Linked DNA regions of Homo sapiens: region 1 is linked to region 2. The links come from fine-mapping of genetic effects on gene expression. A gene starts in region 2. The other region holds a variant in brackets. All regions are shown on one strand. Distances are from middle to middle. Region 1 overlaps REPS1 (RALBP1 associated Eps domain containing 1). Region 2 holds the start of ECT2L (epithelial cell transforming 2 like).

Evidence for each region. PIP is the estimated chance that this variant, and not a neighbour inherited with it, causes the effect. A credible set is the group of variants that fine-mapping cannot tell apart.
Region 1: its variant is the best candidate, but not a certain one, in a credible set for the expression of ECT2L in prefrontal cortex (BrainSeq, PIP 0.79).

The regions. Positions count from the first base shown.
Region 1 is chr6:138,909,879-138,915,264 of GRCh38, reverse strand. It overlaps REPS1 (RALBP1 associated Eps domain containing 1), which reads left to right. Exons shown (of 20, transcript NM_001286611.2): 15 at 504-568; 16 at 2,315-2,500; 17 at 3,894-3,989. Among named protein-coding and RNA genes, the nearest start is that of REPS1, 76 kb to the left of the region's middle. The variant G/A (reference allele first, on the strand shown) is at 2,239.
Region 2 is chr6:138,793,138-138,798,523 of GRCh38, reverse strand. It overlaps ECT2L (epithelial cell transforming 2 like), which reads right to left and starts at 2,437. Exons shown (of 22, transcript NM_001077706.3): 1 at 2,332-2,437. It overlaps CCDC28A (coiled-coil domain containing 28A), which reads right to left. Exons shown (of 6, transcript NM_015439.3): 6 at 5,205-5,386.

The DNA.
Region 1 (5,386 bases), 120 kb before region 2:
TGGCTGATGAAGAAGAAGAGTCATAACTTACCCAGGTTTTTAATTTTTGAAGAACTGGCAGTATTGTTGTTACCTTGGTTAAAATAGAAAAGTTAGGGCAGAGGATGATGAAGTTATGTTTTAGTCACTGTGAGTTTAGAATGGTGAGGAAAAGTGAAGTGTTAAGTGAAAGGGAAAATTTGGAAGTTTTCATTTGATACCTAAACAGCAGTCAGAGATACACGAAGAAAATCAAGATTGTTTGCTATTATGGGAATAGGCAGGAGTATGCCAGGAGGGCTTCATGTAATAGAGGTAAGAAGCAAAGTGAGATCTGATGAAAGGCTGTGAGATTTGGTCTTTAGGTTACATACAGACCATGTAACAAGTTAGTACTTGCCTTCTAATACTTAACAAACATTCTTAGAAATCTTTATCATGTAGTCACATTCATTCAGCCTATTTCTTCTATTAACAAAGTGATTATACAGTTACTAAAAAGAAGAACTTTTGTATTCATGCAGGACAACAACAGGCTGGAGTTGTTGCCCATCCTCCTGCAGTGCCTCCAAGACCACAGCCCTCACAGGTAATTCTCCAAGGTATTTATTACTAAATGTCCCATGATCACTTTGCCTGCTAGGTATTTAATTCTATTCTCAAATTATTTGGAAGGTCAGGAATGATCTGTTGGTAATCTTTAATGAGCATTTAATTCAGTGAGGCTGAATCTCATTTTGAAAGATGCACATTTCAAGAATGATCTGAGTTATTTTTTGAAAGAGCCTTAAAAGTGAAACAAATGATAATGTCTTGACAGAGAAGAGTTTAGTGGAAACAACAATGGATTGGGAGATAGGAAATATCCATTAATGTCCTGGGTCTAGCAGTGACTCACAAAATCACTTCACCAGGCTGGGTGCAGTGGTTCACACCTGTAATTGCAGCACTTTGGGAGGCTAAGGCAGTAGGATTTCTCAAGCCCAGGAGTTCCAGACCAGCCTGGACAACATAGTGAGACCCCCATCTCTAAAAACAAAACAAAAAAATTAGCTGGGTGTGGTGGTGTGCACCTGTAGTCCCAGCTACTTGGGAGGCTGAGGTGGGAGGATCTCTTGAGCCTGGGAGATCAAGGCTGCAGTGAGCTGTAATTGCACCACTGCACTCCAGCCTGGATGACAGAGTGAGACCCTGTCTCAAAACAAAACAAAATACCCCTAAATAACCTCACTGCATCTCTCTGGATGTGTTTACCACATGAGTTAAGGAAGTATAATGACCTCTGCATCCCTTCCACATCAAAATTAGAGTGCTGTAGTAGACATTTATAAAATGCTTTGGGACAGCCTTAGTGGCTAAAGTTAAGGATCACATTATACATGAAATGAAGGAATGAGACTTAGCAGGGACTTGAAAGATAAAGTGGAATTTATTGGGGAAAAGGTATTCCAAACCGAAGGTATGACATCCACAAAGCGATGGAGGTTTGTGTTAAGCCTGGCACATTCCTCAGGGGAAAACAAGTTAGTTCAGCACAACAGGAGTAGATGTGTGGAGTGATGAGAAATGAAGCTGTCCATATCGTAGTAAGAAGGATAGACTTTTTCTTAGAGGAGATGAAGAATTTTTAAAGGGAAGAGACTTCAGATTTCTTTCTTTAGTATCCTTTACTTCCTTTGTCATAAAACATCTCACACTCTATTTTAATTTCTTATTTACTTATTCTCTTCTCCTGCTCCGGACTGTCAGCTTTATTAGAGTATAAGTGGGCCTCATTTGTTTTGTTCACAAGTACATATTCAGTAAACATATTTTTAGACTGAAGATGGAGCAGCATTGGTCTGGCTGGCAAAGGAGTGGAAGATGAATTGAAGGGAAGTGTTCCTGACATGTTGGGAGGATAGAGCAGTGGTTTTCACACTTTTTAGAGCAAGCTTTTTAAGAAACAGTGAAACATTAAAAAAAAATAACTTATTTAAGGAAGAAACTATTGTGCATTAGTCCAATTAAGAAAAAAACACATGCAAGTGGAGAATGGGGGTAGGGCCAGACCTACCCTCTCCTTCATTGTACTTTCTTTGCAATACAGTTTTTGAAAAAAAATATCTTTTTATTGGAGGTTTATCATCTTAATTTTTTTTTTAGTGTCTTAGCTTTTCACTTATGGTTTAATCATTTCTTTAGAGCTAAATGTTACTATAATACACCTCTCTGAACTTACAGATAATAAAACAGGTCATCTTTATATACTAAGTTTTC[G/A]AAGAAGAAGAAGATGACTCTGTGACACTGATAGGCTGATAGAATGTGTGTTCCTCTGTTCTGAACCATTGCACAGGCTCCTGGTCCTGCTGTGCATCGCCCAGTGGATGCCGATGGCCTCATAACTCACACTAGTACCTCACCTCAGCAGATACCAGAGCAACCAAATTTTGCAGATTTCAGTCAGTTTGAAGTATTTGCTGCATCAAATGTAAACGACGAACAAGATGATGAAGCCGAGAAACATCCAGAAGTCCTGCCGGTCAGTTTTCGAGGGCTTGGCTAATTTTCTGCAGGCAGTCACTTCCCATACCATGTTGTGTCAACAGAGCAGATATTAGAGGGGACATCAGTGAGTAAAATATTCCCTGGGTCAGTGCTTCTCATCTTTTTTATTGGCCTCCAATATCTGCTGGTTGCAGTGTAATGCTTACTAAGTATCAGAGTCTGGTGGGGGTGGGGGATTGATATCACATGCAAAGACACCACCGCCTGGCCGTGGCTAAAACGCTGCTTTGGGGGTTTCCATCTTAATGCTAAGCATCTGTCTGTGTGATTTGGTGAAGATTTCCCTGTCATAAGAGGCCATGGTTACCATAGCTCCACTCATTGCAACTTTTCCCCAAGGGGAATTTCACTATATGTAACTTTTAGATCTAATTACAACTTTAACTAAAAACAAATTTCAGCCAAACTTCTAATTAAAGCATTTAAAATTTGTATGAGAGTAAGTTGCCTTAGTTAAGCAAAGACTATAGGATACCAAAATTTAATATTCACAGTGTTCTAGGATATTCTATTGTAGTTCCAATGGCAAGAACCTCTCTAGGAATCTCTGACCTAAATTGCTGAGCATAAATGTGGAGTTGGAGAGACCAGAGGAATTCTGCAATCTCTTTCTTATAGGTCATAGCCATGGAAAATTTCCTACTAGCTCCCTTTTAAAACCTACAACTTTCTGCCGTGCCCATTAGGGGACTGGGCTGCATCTAGGAGGGTCAGAGTGGGCATGTAGAGGTGTGCACAGGGTACCGTACTCACTCCCCTGGGTGGATGCCTCCCTTCTCCCAACCACGAAGACTTCCCAGACTAACCACTTAGAGGTTCGGTGCAGTGGCTGCATCCTCACCCCGTCCTCCTCTCCCTCACACATTTATGACCTGCATCCTCGCCTGTCCTCCTCTCCCTCACACATCTATTACATAGCTGCATCCTCGTCCCCTCCTCCTCTCCCTCACACATCTACTACCTGCATCCTCACCCCATCCTCCTCTCCCTCACACATCTACTACCTGCATCCTTGCCCCGTCCTCCTCTCCCTCACACATCTATTACCTGCATCCTCGCCCCATCCTCCTCTCCCTCACACATCTGTTACCTGCATCCTCGCTCTGTCCTCCTCTCCCTCACACATCTGTTACATAGCTGCATCCTTGCCCTGTCCTCCTCTCCCTCACACATCTATTACCTGCTCTCCCATCTGCCTTTCAGTAGCAGAGAAGGCTCATTTAATAAAGTTCCTTCAAGTTTCTTATCATCATCTCAGTTTTCTTGTCAGAATATTTAACATTTTATTCTGATTTGGTACATATTCTATATTTATGCATAATTACATGTTATGTAGAATTAATAGTGATAAACATATTCATTTTTAGGCTGAAAAAGCTTCTGATCCTGCAAGTTCTCTTCGAGTTGCCAAAACAGATAGTAAAACTGAAGAAAAGACAGCTGCTAGTGCTCCTGCCAATGTGGTATGCAAAATGTCTTTTATAATAATAATTTTGTACATCATAAGTAATGTGAAATAATTTTTAGAAATAAGGTCAGCCAGAAATCATCTAACCCATTTCTCTGCCTTTAACTGTAGTATAGTCAGTCTAGCTCAGAACAAAGTCTGCCTATTTAATGGAGATGATATTCTGTAATCTATGTTAAGTATGTGTCACAGGTTCTCAAAATTTAAGTGGTTATTGCATTCTTCCCACTATATAAGGTAGAACTTCTTTATAGGTGAAATTCAGTTTCTTTTATTGTAGTCTTCAATATAATAAAGAAAAATTATCAGCCCTCTAAGGTTGTTATTATTCCCTGTTCTCTTAACTTGTTCTTTAACTGTTTTAGGTATAATTTTTTCCCCCAACATTTTATTATGAAAACGTTTAAGCATACAGAAAAATTGAAACAATTTTTCATTGTACATCAGTAAATTCACTACTTTATACCATTATTATTTTAGGATACTTGCTTTACTACATATCTCTCCATGCCATCTGTTCATCTGTCAATCCTTATATGTTTTATGTCTGTGTTAGTCCGTCTGCATTGCTATAAAGGAATATGTGAGACTGGGTAATCTGTAAAGAAAAGAGGTTATGCCGGACACAGTGGCTCACACCAGTAATCCCAGCACTTTGAGAGTCCAAGGCAGGCGGATCACTTGAACTCAGGAGTTTGAGACCAGCCTGGGCAATGTGGCGAAACCCCGTCTCTACAAAAAGTACAAATATTAGCCGTGTGTGGTGGTATGCGCCTATAGTCCCAGCTACTTGGCAGGCTGAAGTGGGGGGATCGCTTGAGCCTGGGAGGTGGAGGTTGCTGTGAGCTGAGATAGTGCCCTACACTCCACCCTGGGTGACAGAGTGAGACCCTGTCTCAAAAAAAGAAAAGAGGTTTATTTTGCCTCATGGTTCTGCATGCTGTACAGAAAGCATGGTACCAGCATCTGCTTCTTGTGAAGCCTCAGGAAACTTAGAATCATGGCAGAAGGCAAAGTGGGAGCCGGTGTGTCACATGGTGAGTGAGGGAGCAAGGAGAGATGCCAGGCTCTTTAAACAGCCAGCTCTCATGTGAACTCAAGAGTAAGAACTCATTCATTACTGTGAGAAGGGCACCAAGCCATTCACAAGGGATCTATCTCCATGACCCAAACACCTCCCACTAGGCCCACCTCCAACATTAGAGGTCACATTTCACCATGAGATTTGGAGGGGACAAATATCTAAACTATATCAGTGTACTTTAGATTGCAAGTATCAGCACACTTTCCCTTTGAGGGAATAATTTTGGTAACTTTTTTTTTCTGTTATCTAGACATTCCCAATAGTTATAAAAACAGCATGTGTTTCTGAAGTGCTTAAATTCTACTTTC
Region 2 (5,386 bases):
CCTGACATACAGCTCCTAAAACTCTTGTAGATAGGGATGCTAGGAGAATCTTTTGTTCTAATATTTGGTTTTTGACCCCAGTTCCTGACACAGAGCTCCGAAATCCCTTGGAATTTCCTGGGTGATAGGAGCATCTTTTGTTCAGATGAAGTGAATCTTGGTGGACCCCTAGATAGCTTCAGGATGGGGGCTGGTTACCAGGGAAACCAACCATGTGATTATGCAGCTGGAACTTTCAGCTCCATCCTCTGACCTCTGGGGAAGAGAGAAGGGCTCAAGTTGAGTGATCACCAATGGCCAATGATGTCATCAATTGTGCCTATGAATGAATCCTCCATTAAAATCCCAAAGGACAAGATTCAGGGATCTTTGGGATAGCTGAACATGTGGAGGGGCTGAGAAGGCATGGAAGTTCCACACCCTTGCCCACATACCTTTCTCTGGGCCTCTCTTCTATCTGGCTATTCATCTGTCCTTTGTAATATCCTTTATAATAAATGGGCAAACATAAGTAAAGTGTTTCCTTGAATTCCGTGAGTCACTCTAGCAAATTAATCAAACCGGAGGAGGGGCTTGTGGGAATCCAGATTTGTAACTGGTTGGTTAATCATAAACAACATATAGTCACAACCTGGGACTTGTGATTGGCATTTGAAGTGGGGGGCAGTCTTTTGGGACTGAGCCCTGAACGTATGGGATCTGACACTAACTCCAGGTACACAGTGTCAGAACTGGGTTAAATTATAGGACGTAGAGTTGGTGGCCACTGGAGAATTGGTTGTCGGTGGGAAGAAATTCCCATACATTTTGGTGACAAGAGGTGAAGGGCTGTACTGAGTGTGTGAGAGTAAAGAGAAAAAAGTTTTTTGTTTTTTTTTTCCTCTCAGAACAACCAAAGCCAGATTAAAAGATGAAATGGCTGAACAATTGCCAGCCCATATAGAGAGCTAAATCCTCACTGGGATCACACAGAAGAGCAATGATGTCAATTAACTGTGTTTCCACAGGTTATCTGTTATACAGCTGGAGAAATGCAAGTTAGTCTGGTCCTTCTCCACTACAGTAGACAGAGTGGCTTAGAAATTAAAACACTGCTCCTCGGCAGAGGTATGTACCTACATGCGCGTACTTCTGCAATTCACACATGCAAATTGTGCAATGATTCCTTTATTTATCAAAAATTTACTTCCTTAAATATGCCTCCAAAAAGGTATCTGGTTCTAAAGATCGCACAAAAGAACGGGAGTAGAAGAAAAGTAAGTGTGATTGGTGAAAAAACAGAAATGAAAGACAATTCCAGTTGAGTTAAATGTCCCACATTTAGGGCATGTAAAACTACATGCCAGTATATAATTTTTATTAAGTACACACTAAGCAATGGATAATGAAAATAATGGCGTGTTTTGAGGAAACCTGGGCTATTGATCTTACAGGCGGTGATAGAAAATACCATACTTGTGCTGGTATTTTCAAATGGTGGATGTGCTCACTGATTTATAAGTTTAAAGCTATAAAACTAAAGCTGTAACAAACAAGATGCAACTGTTGCTATAAAACTTCCAAGTCCTTAACCCTTCTTCCTCCCACTGAAATAAGTGTTTGTAGAGCATGATTTTTGAGGTTTCTGTGGAGCACAAATGTCAGTTCCTGCAGAACAGACTTTAACAGGCTTGGATACAATTGCATGGGTTGCAGTGAACTTTAACACCAATGATGTCAGGATATTGTGTTCTGATACATATGCAAAGTTTATTAATAAGCACAGCATCGGTATTTTTAAATCGATATTTTAAAGTACCACTGTTTTATTTGTCCTGCTCATCAAATCTTAGCATATTAACTCTTAGAGCTATCCTTATAACCAAGACCTATATTCACAGTAGATTTTTTGTATTCCTCCCTCATTCCCCCAACCCAGCCCCCACCCTACTCCCTACATTTTTGGACCCCATAGGAGGAAAGAGGGAGAGAACTGTCAGAAGGAAGAAGGCAGTTGGTGTGAACCTATGAAAATCAGCGTTTTCCAAAGTGTTCAAGAACTTTACTTCGATCCCAAATCAGTTCTCTGGAGGAGGTAAGAGTTTACTTGGCATGGCCCGATGCAAACCCTACCCTACGCGTGGATTTTGTTTCTCCCCAGAGCCTCTTCAGAATCTTGGTTAATTCCAGAGCTGCTAAGGGACTCCAGGGTCGCGGAGGGAGGGCCCTGCGCCCCTCAGCGCTGCTTAGGGTCTTCCTGGGCGACTGCACTGGGAAACTAAGCCGGCCCAGGCGATGTGCCCCGGGCGGCCCCAAGAAAAAGACTAGCGGCTCAGAAGCCACGGGCTTTACCTCTAGGAAGTGGCTATGAGGCCCGGTACAGTGGCGGCTGTCTCCTCTTGGAACCGCGCAGTGAAAATCGAGTGCGCCAACTCGGGCCGCAGCTCCGGAGAGGGGTGGGGCAGGGACAGGGTCATCTCCATAGGGATCCAACAACACGGAGCCACCACCCCGCCCCACAGGCCCGCAGCCCCTCCCGCCGCCGCGCCCGGACGGCCAACCTGCATCTCCCCAGCTGCAGTGAGCAAAGCCGCCCGCGCCGTGCGAGCCACCGCCCTTCTCTTGAGGCCAGCTAGGCTCGGGTCCCGGCTCCTTTCCCTGCCTCCAGGGAGCTTGCGGTGGGAGAAAGCTTCCGTGGGGTCCCGTGGGTCGCGGCACGTCTCGGAAGCCCTGCGAGGTGCCCAGCAGAGGTGCCAGACCCAAGGCCGTGGGACCCCAAGAAGAGACTTGGACACTGAAGCCAACGTTTGCTTGATCTCAAACAAAGCCAGCGATGTTAATTAAGGCTGTGTGATGAGGAAAGTGGAGTTTCTTATTTTTTGTCACATTCATCTTCAGCAGATCCTCAGAAAATGTTAATATTTACTGCAGAATTACCAATTTCAGCATTATACAGGAGGTACAAAAACAAAACCAAAAAACCCTTCTTCATTAGTTTCAGGTCAAAATGTCTTTTAACTATTTATTGTGAAGCCTGTTTTTTTCTTTTGTATGTAATAGTTATGGCCATGAAAAGATGCTCACAGTACATTACTTACAAAAAGCAGCTTAGAAAACCAGCAGAATGGTACGATCTATTTTTTTTGCAACGTGTGTAAGAAATCTGGGAGTATGTACACAAATAGGTTAAATGGTTTGCTCTGGTAGTTTTAAAAATCATCTGTAATTCAATTTTTCCTACAACGAATAAGCAACATCTATGTAATAAACCATAAGTTTCATTCTAGTAAAGTTTCATATGAGAAATGTGATCTTGCTATGCTGCCTAGGCTGGAGTGCAGTGGCTATTCACAGGCCTGGTCATTGTGCACTATATTTTTATTTTTATTTCAAATATCTTTTTCTTTTTCATCTGTATGCCAGTAAAATCATCATTGTACACTATAGCCTAGAACTCCTGGGCTCAAGCAATCCTCCCGCCTCAGCCTCCAGAGTAGCTAAAAGTACTGGTGCCTGTCACCAAACCAGGCCTTAAATTTTATTCTAATCCAGGCACTGCATTTTTTCCTGTTTCCTTGAACATGTGTTTAAGGAGTGTGAAAGGATACAAATTAGATAAGCTAATATTTCGCTACCTGGGACCCATTTAGGGCCCTGTGACACAAAGGGCGAATGAACCAAGTGAATAAACAAGGTCAATCCACTGCTCTGTCACAACCCGCAGGAACCAGCTTTTTGCTTTACTCTATCTCAGGACCAATCCAAGAAAAACATGTCACATGACAAAGTGTCCTTTCGCCCTGTCAGACCCTAGAGTACGACTTTTTCCCCCTTAAATCCCTATTCTCACAACCCAAATGAAGTTTCCTCCATGATGCTGTAATTTTTAAAAGGGGTATTAAAAAGACCAATTTACTGATCAAAATACTTTGAATTCAGAAAGCCAAAAATTATTAAAATCAAGATTTGAAAAATATTCAGTAAGTCCCTCTCCTCCCCTCCCCCAATTAGGTGCTTATTTCTGTGGCCTGGAAACAAGGAGACAGAAGCATGAGCATCTTCTGCAACACAAAGGTAACTGAGTTATAAATAAGCAAAATGTGTTCTATCCATACCATGGCATATGATCAGCCAAAACAAGAAATGAAGTACATGCAATAACATGGATGAAGCTTCAATCCTTGAAAACATCATGCTAAGTAAACGAAACCAGTCACAAAAGGCCACGTATTGTATGATTCCATTTATATAAAATGTCTAGAATAGAAAATCCAGAGAGCTGGAAAGGAGGTTAGTGGCTGCCAAAGGCTGAGGGGATTAGGGGACAAGGAGTGACTGTTAATGGGATTCTTTTTAGTGTGATGAAAATGTTCTAGAATTAGATCACGGTGATGGGTATATAACTCTATGAATCTACTAACAATCACTGAATTGTACACTTTAAAGGGGTACATTTTATGACATAAATTATTGTTTCAATAAAGCTGTTTTTAAAGGGTGATGAAATTAATGTTTACTGAGCATTACTGGTATCAGCTATTGTGCTAGGCATCTCTCTTTTTTTTTTTTTTTTTGAGACAGAGTCTTGCTCTGTCGCCTAGGCTAGAGTGCAGTGGCACAATTTCGGCTCACTGCAACCTCTCTGCCTCCTGAGTTCAAGCAATTCCTGTGTCTCAGCCTCCCTGATAGTTGGGATTACAGGAGCCCGCCACCACGTCCGGCTAATTTGTGTGTATGTGTTTTTAGTGGAGATGGGGTTTCACCATGTTGGCCGGTCTGGGTATTGAACCCCTGACCTCAAGTGATCCACCTGCCTCAGCCTCCCAAAGTGCTGGGATTATAGGCGTGAGCTACCGTGCCCGGCTTGTGCTAAGCATCCTATACGCGCTTTTTCACTTACTCCCCATACAACAACTACCAACTTGGTTACTGACCTCATTTTCTAGATTTAAAAAAAAAAAAAAGAAAAAAGAAAAAAATCCAACCTGAGTAAACGTGCATGAACACAAAGTTAAGGGGGCAGAACGGCGATTCAAATTAAGGTGTAAGTAACTTTAAAGCTCACATTCTTTCATCACACCAGTATTTAAATGTACACAAGGTACAGAATTTGCAAGGAGTTCAAGAACCTCAAATTTTATAAACACAGTTTACTTTTAAGGATTGAACCCTTGTATTTCCCAGATTGAAGACTATATGGGTTTCTTCAAAACAGACAACAGAGATTAATTTAAAACAATTACTTTATTAAAAAATAGCAAATCTCACAAATACTTATTTAATTTCTTATCACTGGCCATTGGAAAACACACCAGCATGTGTACTGATTGTCTAACATAAACTGAAGCTGGGCTTGCCACAAGACGCCTGTGCATCAACAGCTTGCGATCAACACTGGAATAAGTTT